Linked DNA regions of Homo sapiens: region 2 is linked to region 1. Evidence: fine-mapped QTL for protein levels in blood plasma. A gene starts in region 1. The other region holds a variant in brackets. All regions are shown on one strand. Distances are from middle to middle.

Region 1 (7,998 bases):
AAAAAATAAAATAAAAAAAAAGAGGATCTGACCCAAGAAGGTGTCCACTGGCTTCCCCTGGCTGCCTGTAGGGAATAGACTGGGGACACAGGTGGAAACAGGGAGAGCAGGGTGGGCTCATGGAGAACAACTGATGCAGGAAAGGTCAGATTCAGGATCATCTTGAAGTTGGAGCCACAGAAATTGCTGCATCGTGAGATGTTTCTCATCTCAGGAAACATCACCACCATTGACTGCATTGCTCACGCTGCAGACCTTGAGTCCCAGGCTGTCTGGCATCTTGGGGAAAAGCATGGCCTCTGGAGCCAGCTGCATGGTTCCAGATTTTAAAATCCTACTTCTGATGCGGCATGGTGGCTCACACGTGTAATCCCAGTGCTTTGGGATGCCAAGGTGGGAGGATCGCTTGAGCCCAGGAGTTCAAGAGCAGCCTCGGCACAGTCCCAGCCACTCAGGAGGCTGAGGTGGGAGGATTGCTTGAACCTGGGAGTTCGAGGCTGCAGTGAGCCATGATCGTGCCACTGCACTCTAGCTGGTATAACAGAGTGAGACCCTGTCTCTAAAAACATTAATGAGTTAATTTAAATAGTTCATTACTCACTACTCACCAGCCAGTGTGACCCCCTTGGGCAAGTGCTTAACCTCTCTGTGCCTTAGTTTACCCATTGGTAACACAAATAGTAATAGGACCTAGCTGGTACGGTTGCTGTGAGGATTCTGTGAGTAATGACTCCACAAATATTAGCTTTTATTTCCTTCCCACCCAACATGCAATCAATCCCTCACCAAGTCCTGTGTGAGTTGTTTTTTTTCCGCCTTGGTGGTTTGGGGGTTCGAACCTGCTGTGCCTGGGTTCTGATCCCTGGTTGAGTCAATGGGTGGGGCCTGGGAGCCTGGATGAGCTCCATCATGCCTTCTCACCAGGTATTGACCTGATGGACATGGCTTCGGACATCCTGCAGCCCAAAGGAGATGATGTGGCCCGGATCAGCTGGTACCTCCGTGACATCATCACTCGATACCAGGAGACCTTCAACGTCATCGAGAGGGTGACTCTAGGGGTCTGGAGGGGATCTTTCTCCATACGCGCCTCCCCTGGGCCAGCCCTGACCCCACTCTTCCTGTTCCCTCTCAGTGCCCCAAGCCCGTGATTGCTGCCGTCCATGGGGGCTGCATTGGCGGAGGTGAGTCTGCGGCTATCCTCCTGCTCGGGTGCTCCCCAGGTGGGGCTGCTGCTCCGATGCCGCGGCCACTGGCATCCAGCCTCAGCTCTGTCATGGGCCAGACTGTGTCCCAAGAGGCAGCCCCACCTCCCGGGAGCCAGGGTTGGTTCTGGTGGTCATTCAGCATCCCTGGCCTCTACCTCCTAGGTGTGGACCTTGTCACCGCCTGTGACATCCGGTACTGTGCCCAGGATGCTTTCTTCCAGGTGAAGGTGAGTCATCCTCCCGAGCTCCTGCTTAGAGCTGGGCAGTGGGGTGAGGTTGGGGGGCCTGGAGTGAGCCTCGAGGGCTTCATGGAAGAGTCGGAGTTGAACCCGACAAAGTAAGACTTGCCCATAGAGGAAGTCAAGAGGTGAAGTTGTGAGTGGGTAAGGTATGAGGTGGGGTTGAGGCTGGCAGGTGTCAGAGGCAGAGATTGCTCCTGGGGCCATACTGGTGAGGGTGGGAGGCAGGATGGAGCCGGGGGATGCAGTAAAGGGGTCTCAGGTAGGGTGAGGAGGGTTCCTCTCTCACAGATGGAGCTGCCCTGAGGGAATGGGAGGGTGCATGAGTGGGAAGGTGGGCTCTATTCTAGGTTGAAGGAACTTGCCTGAGTCAAGAAGCTGCCTGGGCAATGGAATGGGACTTTGGAGGAAGTCACTGGGGTGAAGGTGGGGCGGGACTCTCCAGTAGACATGAAATTTCATGGACGTTGACATTGCGAGGGGCACAGTATTGGGCAGAAACCAAACACTGACCCGATTCCTCCCCCAGGAGGTGGACGTGGGTTTGGCTGCCGATGTAGGAACACTGCAGCGCCTGCCCAAGGTCATCGGGAACCAGAGGTGGGTGCAGGGGGTGTGGGGGTGTGGGCAGGAGACCCCAGAGCATCTCCCAGCCCCGGGGTGGCAGCCGCCTCCTGATGCACGCTTGCCTTTGCAGCCTGGTCAACGAGCTGGCCTTCACCGCCCGCAAGATGATGGCTGACGAGGCCCTGGGCAGTGGGCTGGTCAGGTAGGGCCATGGCCGTGGTAGCTCAGTGCTGGGGGCAGCCAGGCCTGGAGGGTTGGAGGCCTCTCCGGGTCCCCTTGTCTCCTCGCTCTAGAATTCCTAGTGGCATCCTTTCTTGGTGAGCTCATTTCTTTATTGTGGGGTCAGCCCCCTGCTCTGATTGGGCTGTTTCTCTGGGGTCTTGGGCCTTCCTCTGTGAGTGGCCACTTCTTCATCTGCGGGAGGCTGGAGGAGAGAGCCCTTCCCAGCCCACCCGGTCCCTGATCTCTTTCACTGCAGCCGGGTGTTCCCAGACAAAGAGGTCATGCTGGATGCTGCCTTAGCGCTGGCGGCCGAGATTTCCAGCAAGAGCCCCGTGGCGGTGCAGAGCACCAAGGTCAACCTGCTGTATTCCCGCGACCATTCGGTGGCCGAGAGCCTCAACTACGTGGTAAGGTGCACGCTCCGACCAATCACAGCCCTCCTCTAACCCCAGGCGACCAACCAGGGTGCAGGGTGCTCTCATGCTTTATCCTGATTGGCCCCTGCTAATCTCTCTCCTCGTTCTCTCTCAACACCCTCGGTACCAGGCGTCCTGGAACATGAGCATGCTGCAGACCCAAGACCTCGTGAAGTCGGTCCAGGCCACGACTGAGAACAAGGAACTGAAAACCGTCACCTTCTCCAAGCTCTGAGAGCCCTCGCGTCCCAGGCCCCAGCCAGGGGGCCGGCCTTGTCCCGCCTCATCCACAGAAAGGGAGGATGGGCGATGACAGTTGTTTCTATGCCTTCTGACCCAGTTTCCCAGTTTATAACTTTATGACAATGAGTTTCTCAAGCCCAAGGCCTTATCTTCACCCCACAAACAATAAAGCAAAGTAAAGAACCTGGTGCCCTTCTTGGATAGAGGAGAGGTGGGAGGGGCTGGGATGCACCTAGGGGCTCCAGAGACTGCAGTCCTGAAGGCTGGGGCTAGAGGTTGGATGCATGGGAATGGGTGGCATGGAGGTGATGGCCATTCAGACTGGCAGCGGGCAGGCGAGGGGCACAAGGAATTCCGGGGCGGAGGGAGTGAGCAAAAGTCGCTGGGGTCCCTCTGGGTTGCAAGGCTTCCTGGTCTCCCTGCCTGCCCTGGGGTTGAGGGTGGCGTTCGTGCCCTGCCTGGCACCTCTCACTGCACAGCACATGGGATCTGATGCTGGCGTCTCACACCTGTAATCCCAGCACTTTTGGAGGCTGACGCAGGTGGATTGCCTGAGCTCAGGAGTTTGCAACCAGCCTAGTCAACATGTTGAAACCCAGTCTCTACTAAAAATACAAAAATTAGCTAGGTGTGGTGGCAGGTGCCTCTAGTCCCAGCTACTCGGGAGGCTGAGGCAGGAGAATCCTTGAACCCAGGAGGTGAGTTTGCAGTGAGCTGAGATCATGCTGCTGCAGTCCAGCCTGGGTGACAGAGTGAGACTCTGTCTCAAAAAAAGAAAAAACAAAACAAAAAAGGACTTTGGGGTTTCTGGCCGGGTGCAGTGGCTCATGCCTGTAATTCCAGCACTTTGGGAGGTTGAGGCAGGTGGATCACTTGAGGTCAGGAGTTTGAGACCAGCCTGGCCAACATGGCAAAACCTGGTCTCTACTAAAAATACAAAAATTAGCCAGGCGTGGAGTAAGCCTGTAATCCCAGCTATTCAGAAGGCTGAGGCAGGAGAATCCCTTGAACCTGGGAGGTGGAGGTTGCAGTGAGCTGAGATGGTGCCACTGCACTGCAGCCTGGGTGATAGAGCAAGACTCTGTCTCAAAAATGAGCAAACAAAACTTTGGGATTTTTTATCCATATATCATCCCAATCTTCCGGATTTATGTTTGGAATGACTGCAAGAGACCAAGCATTAAGTTAATGACTTCTATATGCTATGTCCTGTTCTGAGCATTTATTATCTTAATGATCAAGGACTCTATGAAGTTGATACTATTATGATTATTATTATTATGACTATTATTGTTGCTATTTTTAGAGACGGACTCTTAGTCTGTCACCCAGGCTGGAGTGCAGTGGCATGATCATAGCTCACTGTAACCTTAACTCCTGGGTTCAAGCGATCCTCCTGCCTCAGCCTCTGAGTAGCTAGGAATACAGATGTGTGCTACCATGCCCAGCTAATTTTTATTTTATTTTTGTAGAGATGGGGGTCTCACTATGTTGCCCAGGCTGGTCTTGAACTCCTGGGCTCAAGCAGTCCTCCTGCTTCAGCTTCCCAAATTGCTGGGATTGTAGGCACAAGCCACCACACCCAGCCTAAGGTTGATACTACTCTTTTCTTTATTTATTTATTTTTCTGAGTGGCAGTTGGACCCACAGCTAGAACTTATTTGGCAGATTAATAACATACAGGCATTACTGGATCACAAATTCATTTTTAAAATATTTTGATAGCTATTCAATACTTGTTTCCTCTCTTATGAATTCCTTTTTTTTTTTTTTTTTTTTTGAAACAGAGTCTCCATCTGTCATCCAAGCTGGAGTGCAGTGGCGTGACCTTGGCTCACTGCACTCTCCTCCACTCAGGTTCAAGTGATTCTCCTGCCTCAGCCTCCAAGTAGATGGGATTATAGGCACCCACCACCATGCCTGGCTAATTTTTGTATTTTTAGTAGAGACTGGGATTTTGCCAGGCTGGTCTCGAACTCCTGCCCTCAGGTGATCCATCCACCTCGGCCAGTCAAAGTGCTGGGATTACAGGCATGAGCCACTGCACCCAGCCGATACTACTATATCCCCATTTTACAGATGAGCACATGGGCAAATTGAGGGTAAGGCACTGACCCATGATCATACAGCTGAGAAGTGGCAAAGGCAGGATTTGAACCTAGAACCTCTGGCTCCACACACTAGTAATCTAAACCACTCTCCCTACAATACAACATACGTGGTAAAGATGTGTGGTGGGCACGCAATCAACGTAGGTCCCTTCACAGTTGCTGGGAGAGGCAGGAATTTGCAGTTCCTCCGCGTTCTCCTCCTCCGCTGCCCACCTGTCCTGGGTCATTCCTGCAGCCTGCCCTGCCCTGCCTGGTCTCACCCTCCCTCTGCCAACAGAAGTCTGGGCAGGGTTTTATGGGCTCTGATAAGGCCCTGGCAGGGCCGAAGTTCATGAGCACTTCCTCTTTGCAGGAGGGCGTAGGGGAGGGGACCCAGGTGATTTGGGTCCTGGCTGGTCACCAGGGAAGCTGGCAAGGGAAGGGAGACTAGGGTGCGCTCTAGGAGAAGCCGACAGCCTGAGAGTCCCAGAAGAGGAGCCCTGTGGACCCTCCCCTGCCAGCCACTCCCTTACCCTGGGTATAAGAGCCACCACCGCCTGCCATCCGCCACCATCTCCCACTCCTGCAGCTCTTCTCACAGGACCAGCCACTAGCGCAGCCTCGAGCGATGGCCTATGTCCCCGCACCGGGCTACCAGCCCACCTACAACCCGGTGAGATGCCAGCTCAGGCCCCACTCCGCCCGCAGCTCCGTCCATAAGCCCTCACACCAATTTTCCCCACTCTGATCCTGGGGGGCCCCATCTGACTCTGTGGTCTGATTTACCCAAAGCTGACCCCGACCCTCGATTTACTCCTACCCTGACCTCAGGCTGTCTGTGTCCACGTCTAACTGTTGGCCCTCGTCATCTTCAACCTGGTCCTCCCCCATGGTTTCCTCTCTCCTGCTTAAGGGACTGGGGGGCTTTTCTGGGAGGGGTAAAGGCTGCAACAGGCAGATGGCTTGTGAGTCCCCTCACCAGGCCTCTTCTCCAGACGCTGCCTTACTACCAGCCCATCCCGGGCGGGCTCAACGTGGGAATGTCTGTTTACATCCAAGGAGTGGCCAGCGAGCACATGAAGCGGTAAGACCCTCCCCAAGCCAGGCCGGGCTGGCAGGGGACTTCCAACTGGGTGCTCTGGGCCTGGCTGTTGGGGGCTTTCTGCCCTTACCCCACCCTGGTGGAGAGGGGACTCTTTTTCTGCCCCACCCAATAGCCAGAGATGAATCTGGGGCAGATCAGGAGTGGGGACGTGGGGGCCAGAAGGTTCAGGGAGGGCTCACCGTGAGAGGCAGTCCCTGAGTTGGACATTAGACTGAAGCTGATGGGTGCAATGGCAGGAATTCAGATCACAGGCTCAGAGCCGGGTCCCCGAGTTAAAATCCCAGCTCTGCCACTCCCCAGCTCTGTGTTGGTGAAAGAGTGAAAGTGACTATACCTCTCTGTGCTTCATTTTCTTTTCTTTTCTGTTTTTGTTTTTTTTGTTTTTTTTTTTGTTTTGAGATGGAGTTTTGCTCTTGTCGCCCAGGCTGGAGTGCAATGGCATGATCTTGGCTCACTGCAACCTCTGTCTCCCAGGTTCAAGCGATTCTCCTGCCTCAGCCTCTTGAGTAGCTGGGATTACAGGCATGTGCCAGCACACTGGCTAATTTTTGTATTTTTAGTAGAGATGGGGTTTCACCATGTTGGTCAGGCTGGTCTCGAACTCCTGACCTCAAGTGATCCTCCCATCTCGGCCTCCCAAAGTGCTGGGATTACAGGCGTGAGCCACTGCGCCTGGCCCAGTCTTAGCTTTTTAAAAAGGGCCTTAACACGTTGATAATGATTGGCCTCATAGGACTTTTTTTTTCCTTAGAGATAGGGTCTTGCTCTGTTGCCCAAGCTGGAGTGCAGTGGCACAATATTATAGCTCACTTCGGCCTCCAACTCCTGGGCTAAAGTGATCCTCCTACCTCATCTTTCCAAGCAGATGGGACTACAGACATGTGCCACCATGCCCAACTAATTTAATTTTTAATTTTTATTTATTATTATTATTTGTTTTGTAGAGACAAAGTCTTGTTATGTTGCCCAGGCTGGTCTTGAACTCCTGTGCTCAAGCGATCCTCTAGCCTCGGCCTCCTAAAGTGCTGGGAGGATCAGGCACTGGTATGAGCCACTCTGCCCAGCCTGTTGTTTATTTATTTATTGTTTACTTCTTCACTGAGTGCCTATTCTGTGTCCTGGCACTAGGGATGGAGGAGTGAACAGGACAGAGACCCCTGCCCTCGTGGAGCTGATGTCCTAGTAGGGGAAACATAAAAAATAAGTCCAGGCCGGGCGCGGTAGCTCAGGCCTGTAATCCCAGCACTTTAGGAGGCCTAGGCAGGCAGATCACCTGAGATCGGGAGTTCAAGACCAGCCTGACCAAAATGGAGAAACCCTGTCTCTACTAAAAATACAAAATTACCAGGGCGTGGTGGCGCATGCCTGTAATCCCAGCTACTCAGGAGGCTGAGGCAGGAGAATCACTTGAACCTGGGAAGTGGAGGTTTCGGTGAGCCGAGATCGTGCCATTGCACTACAGCCTGGGCAACAAGAGTGAGACTCTGTCTCAAAAAAAAAAAAAAAAAAAGTCAAATATGTAAGATGTCAGATGATATTAAGTGCTATGAAGAAAATGAGGAGGGAAGGGAGATGGGGAGTGTATGTGCGGACAGAGGTTCCCTTTAAATTGTCCCCTTAAATAGGGTGGCCTGGCCGGGCATGGTGGCTTACGCCTGTAATCCCAGCACTTTGGGTGGCTAAGCCAGGCAGATCACCTGAGGTCAGGAGCTCGAGACTAGCCTGGCCAAAATGGCAAAATCGCATCTGGCTGGGCGTGGTGGCTCACGTCTGTAATCCCAGCACTTTGGGAGGCAGAGACGGGCGGATCACGAGGTCAGGAGATCGAGACCATCCTGGCTAACACAGTGAAACCCCGTCTCTACTAAAAATACAAAAAATTAGCTGGGCATGGTGGCGGGTGCCTGT
Region 2 (8,638 bases), 61 kb before region 1:
GACGTGGCCTGGCTGGGTGAATGCGACCAGGGCTGCCTGGCCCTTGCTGAGCTCCTTGGATGGAAGGTGAGGAGCTGAGCAACCCCAGCCTGTCCTGAGCCCCATCCCTGGACCCTCTCCCCACCCCATGGGTCCTCTGACCCCATGATGCACAGTGACCTTTGACTTCTGTGACCTTTGCTCCTGCAGAAGGAGCTGGAGGACCTTGTCCGGAGGGAGCACGCCAGCATAGATGCCCAGTCGGGGGCGGGGGTCCCCAACCCCAGCACTTCAGCTTCCCCCAAGAAGTCCCCGCCACCTGCCAAGGACGAGGCCAGGACAACAGAGAGGGAGAAACCCCAGTGACAGCTGCATCTCCCAGGCGGGATGCCGAGCTCCTCAGGGACAGCTGAGCCCCAACCGGGCCTGGCCCCCTCTTAACCAGCAGTTCTTGTCTGGGGAGCTCAGAACATCCCCCAATCTCTTACAGCTCCCTCCCCAAAACTGGGGTCCCAGCAACCCTGGCCCCCAACCCCAGCAAATCTCTAACACCTCCTAGAGGCCAAGGCTTAAACAGGCATCTCTACCAGCCCCACTGTCTCTAACCACTCCTGGGCTAAGGAGTAACCTCCCTCATCTCTAACTGCCCCCACGGGGCCAGGGCTACCCCAGAACTTTTAACTCTTCCAGGACAGGGAGCTTCGGGCCCCCACTCTGTCTCCTGCCCCCGGGGGCCTGTGGCTAAGTAAACCATACCTAACCTACCCCAGTGTGGGTGTGGGCCTCTGAATATAACCCACACCCAGCGTAGGGGGAGTCTGAGCCGGGAGGGCTCCCGAGTCTCTGCCTTCAGCTCCCAAAGTGGGTGGTGGGCCCCCTTCACGTGGGACCCACTTCCCATGCTGGATGGGCAGAAGACATTGCTTATTGGAGACAAATTAAAAACAAAAACAACTAACAATCCGGTCTGGCCTCCTGTTTCTTTCTGTGGGCACCCAGGGAAATCTCTGAAGGGAGGGGGTTAGATCTTGGGCCACTAAGGAACCAGAAAGTCTCCGGGATCCAGAGTGAGGGGTAACAAGAGGGTCCTCACGGGGGCCCTCGTGGCTCTGACCCCTGGACTCCCAGCCTGCCAGTGTCCCTTCCTCTAAGCCCCGTCACTAAAGGCCTGAGGCCCCAGAAAGAGGGAGGAAAGTTGACTTCAGATACCCCAGCCCCGCCTCTTCCCCCTGCCTGCTCAGCTTCCTCTCTCCACTTCCTGCTACTGCAGGCCTCTCCTCCGAGAACAGGTAGGGCCCCCAGGAACCGAGCATCTGGCATCTTCAGCCCCTGCTGCCTCCCTTTGGTATGAGGCAGCTGCCCTGACCCACCCCTGCCACGCACTGCCCACAGCCTCCTCTCCTGCCACGGTACACAAGCAGGCATCTGCTTCCCTCTCCCCTCCCCTCCCCTCCCTTCCTTCCTGCTCTTGCCTGGGCAGGGCACCTGCGCCTCCCTGCCCACCTCCCTCCTTCCTAATAACACCCTGGCCTTCTGGTCAATGGCCTAATGTATTTGTTTAGCTGCCTATTATCCATATGCTACACCTGCCCCAAACAAGAATGGAAGGCCCTGAGGGGAGGAGCCTGTCCTGTTCATCACCCTCTCTCCAGGGCAGAGGCACCTAATTCCAGCCTGTATTCAGTAAATACTGGATGGATGGAAGGAAGGAAGGAAGGGAGGGAGGGAGGGAGGGAGGATGGATCCTCCCCCGATCCAGGTCTCCTGCTCCTGGGACTGCTGCTGGGATAAGTGCCACCCTAAGTGATAACCTACGTAGGACTCTGTACCTGGTTAGGAGCTGGGGCCTGATGGGTGGATGAAGAGAGAGAGGAACAGATGTGTGATAAAGCAAGATGAGTAAAATGTTCATGGTAGAATCTTGGTAGTGGGCATAGGGATGTTTCCTGTACAATTCTTTCAGCTTTTCTCTATGTCTGAAATTTTTCATAATAAAATGCTGGGGGAAGAGATTCAGTGGCCCCTCCATGGTGTGGGAAGGGAGGAAGAGGGGATGTTATTACCTTTCCAGATATAGGGACTGCCTACTCTGGGCCAAGAACTTTTCCAGGCGCTGACTGGGTTTTGCCAAGGGCTGGCCCACATTTACACAGCCCCCATGGCTGTTAAAAATCTTAACATATTTCCTACCACTTCAGTAAAGAGCTATTGTTTTGAGTCCTCTCCCCACACCGCAAGACACACTGGCCTCTCTCCTGGGATCCCCAGATTCCCCACCATCCGGTACTAAAGATTTAACCCCTGCCGGCCGGGTGTGGTGGCTCATGCCTGTAATCTCAGCACTTTGGGAGGCCGAGGCGGGGGGATCACTTGAGGTCAGGAGTTTGAGACCAGCCTGGGTAACACGTCAAAACCTTGTCTCTACTAAAAAATACAAAAATTACCCAGGCGTGGTGGTGCACGCCTGTAATCCCAACTACTCGGGAGACTGAGGCACAAGAATCGCTTGAACCTACGAGGCGGAGGTTGCAGTGAGCTGAGATCGTGCCACTGCACTGCAGTCTGGGCAATACAGTGAGACTCCGTCTCAAAAATAAAATAAAGAATTAACCCCTGCCACGGCAAGCGGCCTCTGGGGTCCATTCTGATTGGTCAGGGTCTCTGCCATATTGATTGTAAATATCTTGAACATGACCCGAGGGCTAGAGCAGCTTTGAGTCTTACCTTTCTCCCTGCCAGAGGCCAGGTCATGACTCACTGGCTTCCTGCAACCTGACGATGGCCCAGCCAGAAGACAAGGCACCTGAAGTCCCCACAGAGGGGGTGAGGTGAGGCTACTAGGGCTGAGGCTATGCCCTCCTTCCCCTGCATCCAGAAACCCTTTCCATCCAATACCTCCCTCACTACAGAATCCTGAATCACATCTCTGAGCCTCTGCCCTGGGCCTGCCCCTTCCTGTACCTTTGACCTCACCTCATTGTCCCACTGCCCACCTCTGACCCCTGACTCCCTGGACACTGTCCATCCCAGGCTGGTCCCACCACAGGTG[A/G]ACAAAGCAGACAGGACCCCTCTAGGGGTCCTCAGCACCCTAGAGCCACTTACTCGCCTGCAGAGGACATGGGGGGTGTGGCATGTGCCAGAGCTGGATACCCAGGATGCGGAGGCCCTTGTGGGGCTGTGGCCACTAGGGGTGAGTACTCACAGCTGGGGGCCCATCCTGACACCCTAGATTAGGACTCTGCTGGTTACTAGTGACAAACATGACACAAATTGGGCAAACCAAAAAGGCTATTTATTGCTGGGTGCAATGGCTCATGCCTGCAGTCCTAGCTACTCATGAGGCTGAGGTGGGAGGATCATTTGAGCTCAGGAGGTCAAGGCGGCAGTGAGCTGAGATCATGCCACTTCACTTGAGCCTGGGTGATGGAGCAAGACCCTGTCTAAAAAAAAAAAAAAAAAAATGTAATTTCAAGAAGCTCTGGATCCTGAACTTCAGAACACTTATAAATTCCTCTTCATCCCATTTCTTGGCTTTGCTTTCAACTGCGGGGAATTTTGGATATTTGGGACTGAATATAACAAACACCTGTCCTACAGCGGTTTAAACAAATAGGCATTTATCTTCCTAACATAACCAAAAAGGCAGCTGCTGGCTTTAGATCAGCAGTGCAGTGACATTGAGGCCAGCATAGCTATAATTCTCTTGGACTTCTCTCACAGCTTCCCGGGGGCTGCCCCAGGCCCAAGCACCTGCGTGCATTCCAGGCAGGAAGAACAGAGGCACCACTTGCATCTGTTTATTTTACAGGAAAAATAAAGGTTTTCTTTTCTTTTTTTTTTTAATTTTGAGAGTTTCACTCTTGTTGCCCAGGCTGGAGTGCAATGGCATGATCTCGGCACACTGCAACTTCCGCCTCCCAGGTTCAAGCGATTCTCCTGCCTCAGCCTCCTGAGTAGCTGGGATTACAGGCATCTGCCACAACGCCCGGCTAATTTTTTGTATTTTTAGTAGAGATGGGATTTCACCATGTTGGCCAAGCTGGTCTCAAACTCCTGACGTCAGGTGATCCACCCACCTCTGCCTCCCAAAGTGCTGGGATTACAGGTGTGAACCACCGTCCCCGGCCAAAATAAAGGTTTTCACAACTGATTCAGAAAATATAGATGGCTGGCCGGGTGTGCTGACTCACGCCTGTAATCCCAGCATTTTGGGAGGCTGAGGTAGGAGGCTCGCTTAAGCCTAGGAGTTCAAGACCAGCCTGGGCAACAGAGCAAGGCCCAGTCTCTATTAAAAAAAAAAAAAAAAGAAAAAAGAAAAAAAAAAGGATGGGGCCCAGGTAGCAATATTTTTAATTTTTTTATTTATTATTTTTATTATTATTTTTTGAGATGGAGTCTCCCTCTGTCACCCAAGCTGGAGTGCAGTGGCACGATATTGGCTCACTGCAACCTCTGCCTCCCGGGTTCAAGCGATTCTCCTGCCTCAGCCTCCCGAGTAGCTGGGATTACAGGCGCCCGCCATTACACCCGGCTAATTTTTGTATTTTTAGTAGAGACTGGGATTCACCACGTTGGCCAGGGTGGTCTCGAACTCCTGCCCTCAGGTGATCCACCCGCCTCGGCCTCCCAAAGTGCTGGGATTACAGGCGTGAGCCACCGTGCCCGGCTGTAGCAATATTTTTAACAGCTCTCTTGGGACGTATACAGCCAGAGCTAAGAACCACCACCTATATCAATCATGATCCATATATCAATCATACTCATGGCTGGGTATATTAATGCCGTGAACAAGGAATTCTGCAAGGAATGTGGAATAGGTTTGGAGACGACAGCAAACGGGGGCTACCACAGCTTCCTCCTCAGGAGGGTATCATCCTTCCCAGCTCAGAGCTGTATCCCACCAGTTTAGCAACACCAGTGTAACAAATGAAGTCTTTCCAAAAGAGCTCCAGCACGCAGTGGCTCACGCCTATTATCCCAGCACTATGAGAGGCTGAGAAGAGCGGATCACTTGAAGTCAGGAGTTCAAGACTAGCCTGGCCAATGTGGTGAAACTCTGTCTCTGCTAAAAATACAAAAACTTAGCCGGGCGTGGTGGCAGTCGCCCGTAATCCCAGCTACTTGGGAGGCTGAGGCAGGAGAATCGCTTGACCCCGGGAGGCGGAGGTTGCAGTGGGCAGAGATTGTGCCACTGCACTCCAGCCTGGGCGACAGGGCAAGACTCCGTCTCAAAAAAAAAAAAATCCTGTGGAAGATGTCCATTGGCTGAGCTTGAGTCACATGCCTGTTCCCTGAACCAAACAGTGGGCCGAGAGCACCCTCATCCTGTTGGCTAGATCAGGTCATGGGCCCACCCCGCCAGGGCTTGGGGGAAGTCAGCCCAACACACATGGACTGAAAGTAGGGAGAGGGTTTCCCTAAAGGAAATTTGGGGTGTGGAACCCAAAATAAGGGAAATGGATGCTAGTCAGGCAAAAGCAACAGACATCTGCGCACACCTTTGTCACGCTGGCCTTTGTCTCTATCCCCCAGAGTTTCTTGGTCACAGGACGTGACCCCAGCCAGGCCCTGGTGTTGAGGTCAGGACCTTTACCAGGAGAAGTCAATACCTACCAGATCCAGAAGATTCCCAGAGGTAAGGCACCTCCCCTGAGGTTCCAGCCCACAGTCAATTGATCACTAAGAACTATCAGCTGGACCGGCGCGGTGGCTCACGCCTGTAATCCCAGCACTTTGGTAGGTCGAGGCGGGTGGATCGCTTGAGGCCAGGATTTTGAGACCAGCCTGGCCAACATGGCAAAACCCCGTCTCTACAAAAAATACAAAAATTAGCCGGGCTTGGTGACGCGCGACTGTAATCCCAGCTACTTGGCAGGCCGAGGCACGAGAATAGCTTGAACCCAGGAGGCAGAGGTTGCAGTGAGCCAAGATCACACCACTGCCCTCCAGCCTTGGCAACAGAGGGAAACCCTGCCAAAACAAAACAAAACAAAAACACCTGTCAGCTTTGTTTCCAAAATATCTGATGAATATTTCCAATCCTGTCTCCCTTTCCTTCCCACAATCCATTCTGAGCCCAAGATATTTTTCAGTATCAATCAGATGTTATACACCCCTGCCCCAAATCCTGCAAAGAGCATGCAACGTCCTTAGATACAAAATGTAAACTCCTTGTCATGATCTATAAGGTGCTGTGTGATGTAGTTCCTTCCTGTCTCTCTATCTATTGCCCCTCATTCACTCTGCCCCATACACACTGTTACACTCTGTGTGTCTTTAGCATGCTAAGTGTGTTCCAGCTTCAGGACCTCTGCTTGGGTTCATCCTGTATGAATGCTTTTCCTAGAGGGGCTGGTTTAGTCTCCATCCTCCAGGCCTCTGCAGAAATGTAACCTTTCTTGACCATCATAGTTAAAAGATGGCACCTTGGTCACTTTCTTTTTCTTTTTTCTTTTAGACAGAGTCTCACTCTGTCGCTCAGGCGGAGTGCAGTGGCCCAATCTCAACTCACTGCCACCTCTACCTCCCAGGTTCAAGCAATTCTCATGCCTCTCAGCCTCCCAAGTAGCTGGGATTACAGGTGCACACCACCACACATGACTAATTTTTTGGTTTATTTTTATTTTTATTTATTTATTTTTTATCGTACTTTAAGTTTTGGGATACATGTCCAGAATGTGCAGGTTTGTTACATAGGTATACAGGTGTCATGGTGGTTTGCTGCACCCATCAACCCATGATCTACATTAGGTATTTCTTCCTAATGCTATCCCTCCCCTAGGCCCCCACCTCCCAATTTTTTGTATTTTTAATAGAGATGGGTTTTGCCATGTTGGCCAGGCTGGCTTGAACTCCTGACCTCAAGTGATCCACCCACCTCAGCCTCCCAAAGTGATGGGATTACAGGCGTAAGTCACCATGCCTGGCCTCTTGGTCACTTTCAATCACTCCATTTTCTTCATAGCACTCAATACAATATCCACTTTGTTTACTCGTTTTTAAAATTTATTTTTATTTATTTATTTATTTATTTATTGAGATAGTCTCACTTTTGTCGCCCAGGCTGGAGTGCAATGGCTTAATCTCAGGTCACTTCAACCTCCACTTCCCGAGTTCAAGTGATTCTCCTGCCTCAGGCTCCCAAGTATCTGGGATTACAGGCGCCCACCACCATGCCCAGCTAATTTTTGTATTTTTAATAGAGATGGGGTTTCGCCATGTTGGCCAGGCTGGTCTCGAACTCCTGACTTCAGGTGATTCACCCACCTCGGCTTCCCAAAGTGCTAGAATTACAGGCGTGAGCCACCGTACCCTGACTGTTTATTCATTTATATTCTGCCTTTTCCCCCTCCGCCCCCCGCTAAAAGGTAAGCTACAGGAAGGCAGTGAACTTGTCTGCCTTTTGATAACTGTATCTCCAGTGCCTAGAAAGGACTAAGGGCTCAGTAAATGTTTGTCTAATGAATGAATCCTTGTTGGTGGCATAAGTGGTACACAAGAGTAAAGATGGAGACTCCAAAGAGTGGGAACTTCCCTGTTCTGAAGGTCCCTGGGGGGATTCTGAAGGAATGGAGGAGCAAGAGCATCCCAGGGGACAGAAAACTGCCACCACTCAAGTTTACTTTCTCCTTCTTCCTCCCCCCACCACAGGTGTGTCCCTGGAATCCTCCAACCTCTGCATGCCAGACCTGCCCCATCTCCTGGCCTTTCTATCAGCCAGCAGGTACAGGTCACCCATCTGAGGCACTAAGGGGGACCCTTCCCTAAGACACCCCACTGACACTGTGGCTCCCACCTCTTTATTCTCAGGGATGTTCTGCCCAGAACCCTGCTCTTGCCCCCTCCCACTCTAGGGCCCAGAGATGAACACACAGGTGAGGCACGGTTCTCTAAAGAGGGCACAGCCAACCTGCCAATTTCCTTGCTCCAAGGGAATGAATGGGGCTTTGGGGCCCAGACTACTGGGTTTGAGGAGAATATAGAACTGGAGACTAGAGAGAGCTGGGGGCCTGGACTTTGTAGTCCCAGAGGGAGGAGGGGATGGGGGCCTGTATTCCTAGGTCCTAACAGAGGAGAGGATTGGAGGAGGAAGGAACTGGGGGTCCCGGACGCCTGGGCCTAAGTGAGAAGGGGACTAGGGGCCTGGACTCCTGGGTCTGACTGAGGAGGGGCCAGGAGCTAAGCCTCAGCACCTCCAGCAATGAAGCTGGGAAGTAAGTCTCCTGGCGCCTTGAGGGGACCAGGGTTGGTCCCTTGGATACCTAGGACACCTTCTCACTTCTGCTGGCTCCAGATCCTGTGCAGATCGGCAGGGTCCAACAGGACACCCCAGGGAAGGTGCTTTCCATTGTGAACCAGCTCTACCTGGAGACCCACAGAGGCTGGGGGAGGGAGCAGACCCCTCAAGAAACAGAGCCAGAGGCTGCTCAGAGACATGATCCAGGTTAGCTGGGCGGGGCCCTGGGCCTCTGAAGGGGAGGGAGCTGCTGCCCCTGTTCTAGGCGACCGAATGCCCTCCTCACTTCCAGCCCCCAGGAACCCTGCGCCTCACGGGGTCTCCTGGGTGAAAGGCCCGCTCAGCCCGGAAGTGGACCATCCTGGGCCGGCTCTCGCCAGCCTACTGGAAGAGGAGGAGGAAGACCTTGAAGGAAAGGAGGAA

Which allele goes with the higher level. Alleles are on the strand shown, and positions count from the first base shown. The strength of an association depends on the size of the effect and on how common the allele is.
As copies of G replace A in region 2, the plasma level of the protein whose gene starts at base 5,555 in region 1 goes down (weak association).

Evidence for each region. PIP is the chance, under the fine-mapping model, that this variant and not a neighbour inherited with it causes the effect. The UK Biobank Pharma Proteomics Project read protein levels with antibody pairs (Olink). The fine-mapping took linkage between variants from a reference panel, not from the people measured, so its PIPs are less certain.
Region 2: its variant is fine-mapped to the plasma level of the LGALS4 protein (UK Biobank, PIP above 0.99).

The regions. Positions count from the first base shown.
Region 1 is chr19:38,810,502-38,818,499 of GRCh38, reverse strand. It overlaps LGALS4 (galectin 4), which reads left to right and starts at 5,555. Exons shown (of 10, transcript NM_006149.4): 1 at 5,555-5,658; 2 at 5,981-6,069. The coding sequence starts at 5,614. It overlaps ECH1 (enoyl-CoA hydratase 1), which reads left to right. Exons shown (of 10, transcript NM_001398.3): 4 at 925-1,049; 5 at 1,136-1,184; 6 at 1,371-1,435; 7 at 1,977-2,047; 8 at 2,145-2,216; 9 at 2,493-2,643; 10 at 2,783-3,078. The coding sequence ends at 2,887. RefSeq lists a silencer at 2,545-2,745.
Region 2 is chr19:38,870,862-38,879,499 of GRCh38, reverse strand. RINL (Ras and Rab interactor like) reads left to right here and starts at 1,225. Exons shown (of 12, transcript NM_001195833.2): 1 at 1,225-1,268; 2 at 2,719-2,807; 3 at 3,010-3,169; 4 at 5,512-5,614; 5 at 7,630-7,702; 6 at 7,789-7,853; 7 at 8,273-8,422; 8 at 8,508-8,638. The coding sequence starts at 2,758. SIRT2 (sirtuin 2) reads left to right here. Exons shown (of 16, transcript NM_012237.4): 15 at 1-66; 16 at 190-940. The coding sequence ends at 345. RefSeq lists enhancers at 589-688, 729-848, 8,267-8,638 and a silencer at 1,389-1,438. The variant A/G (reference allele first, on the strand shown) is at 3,029.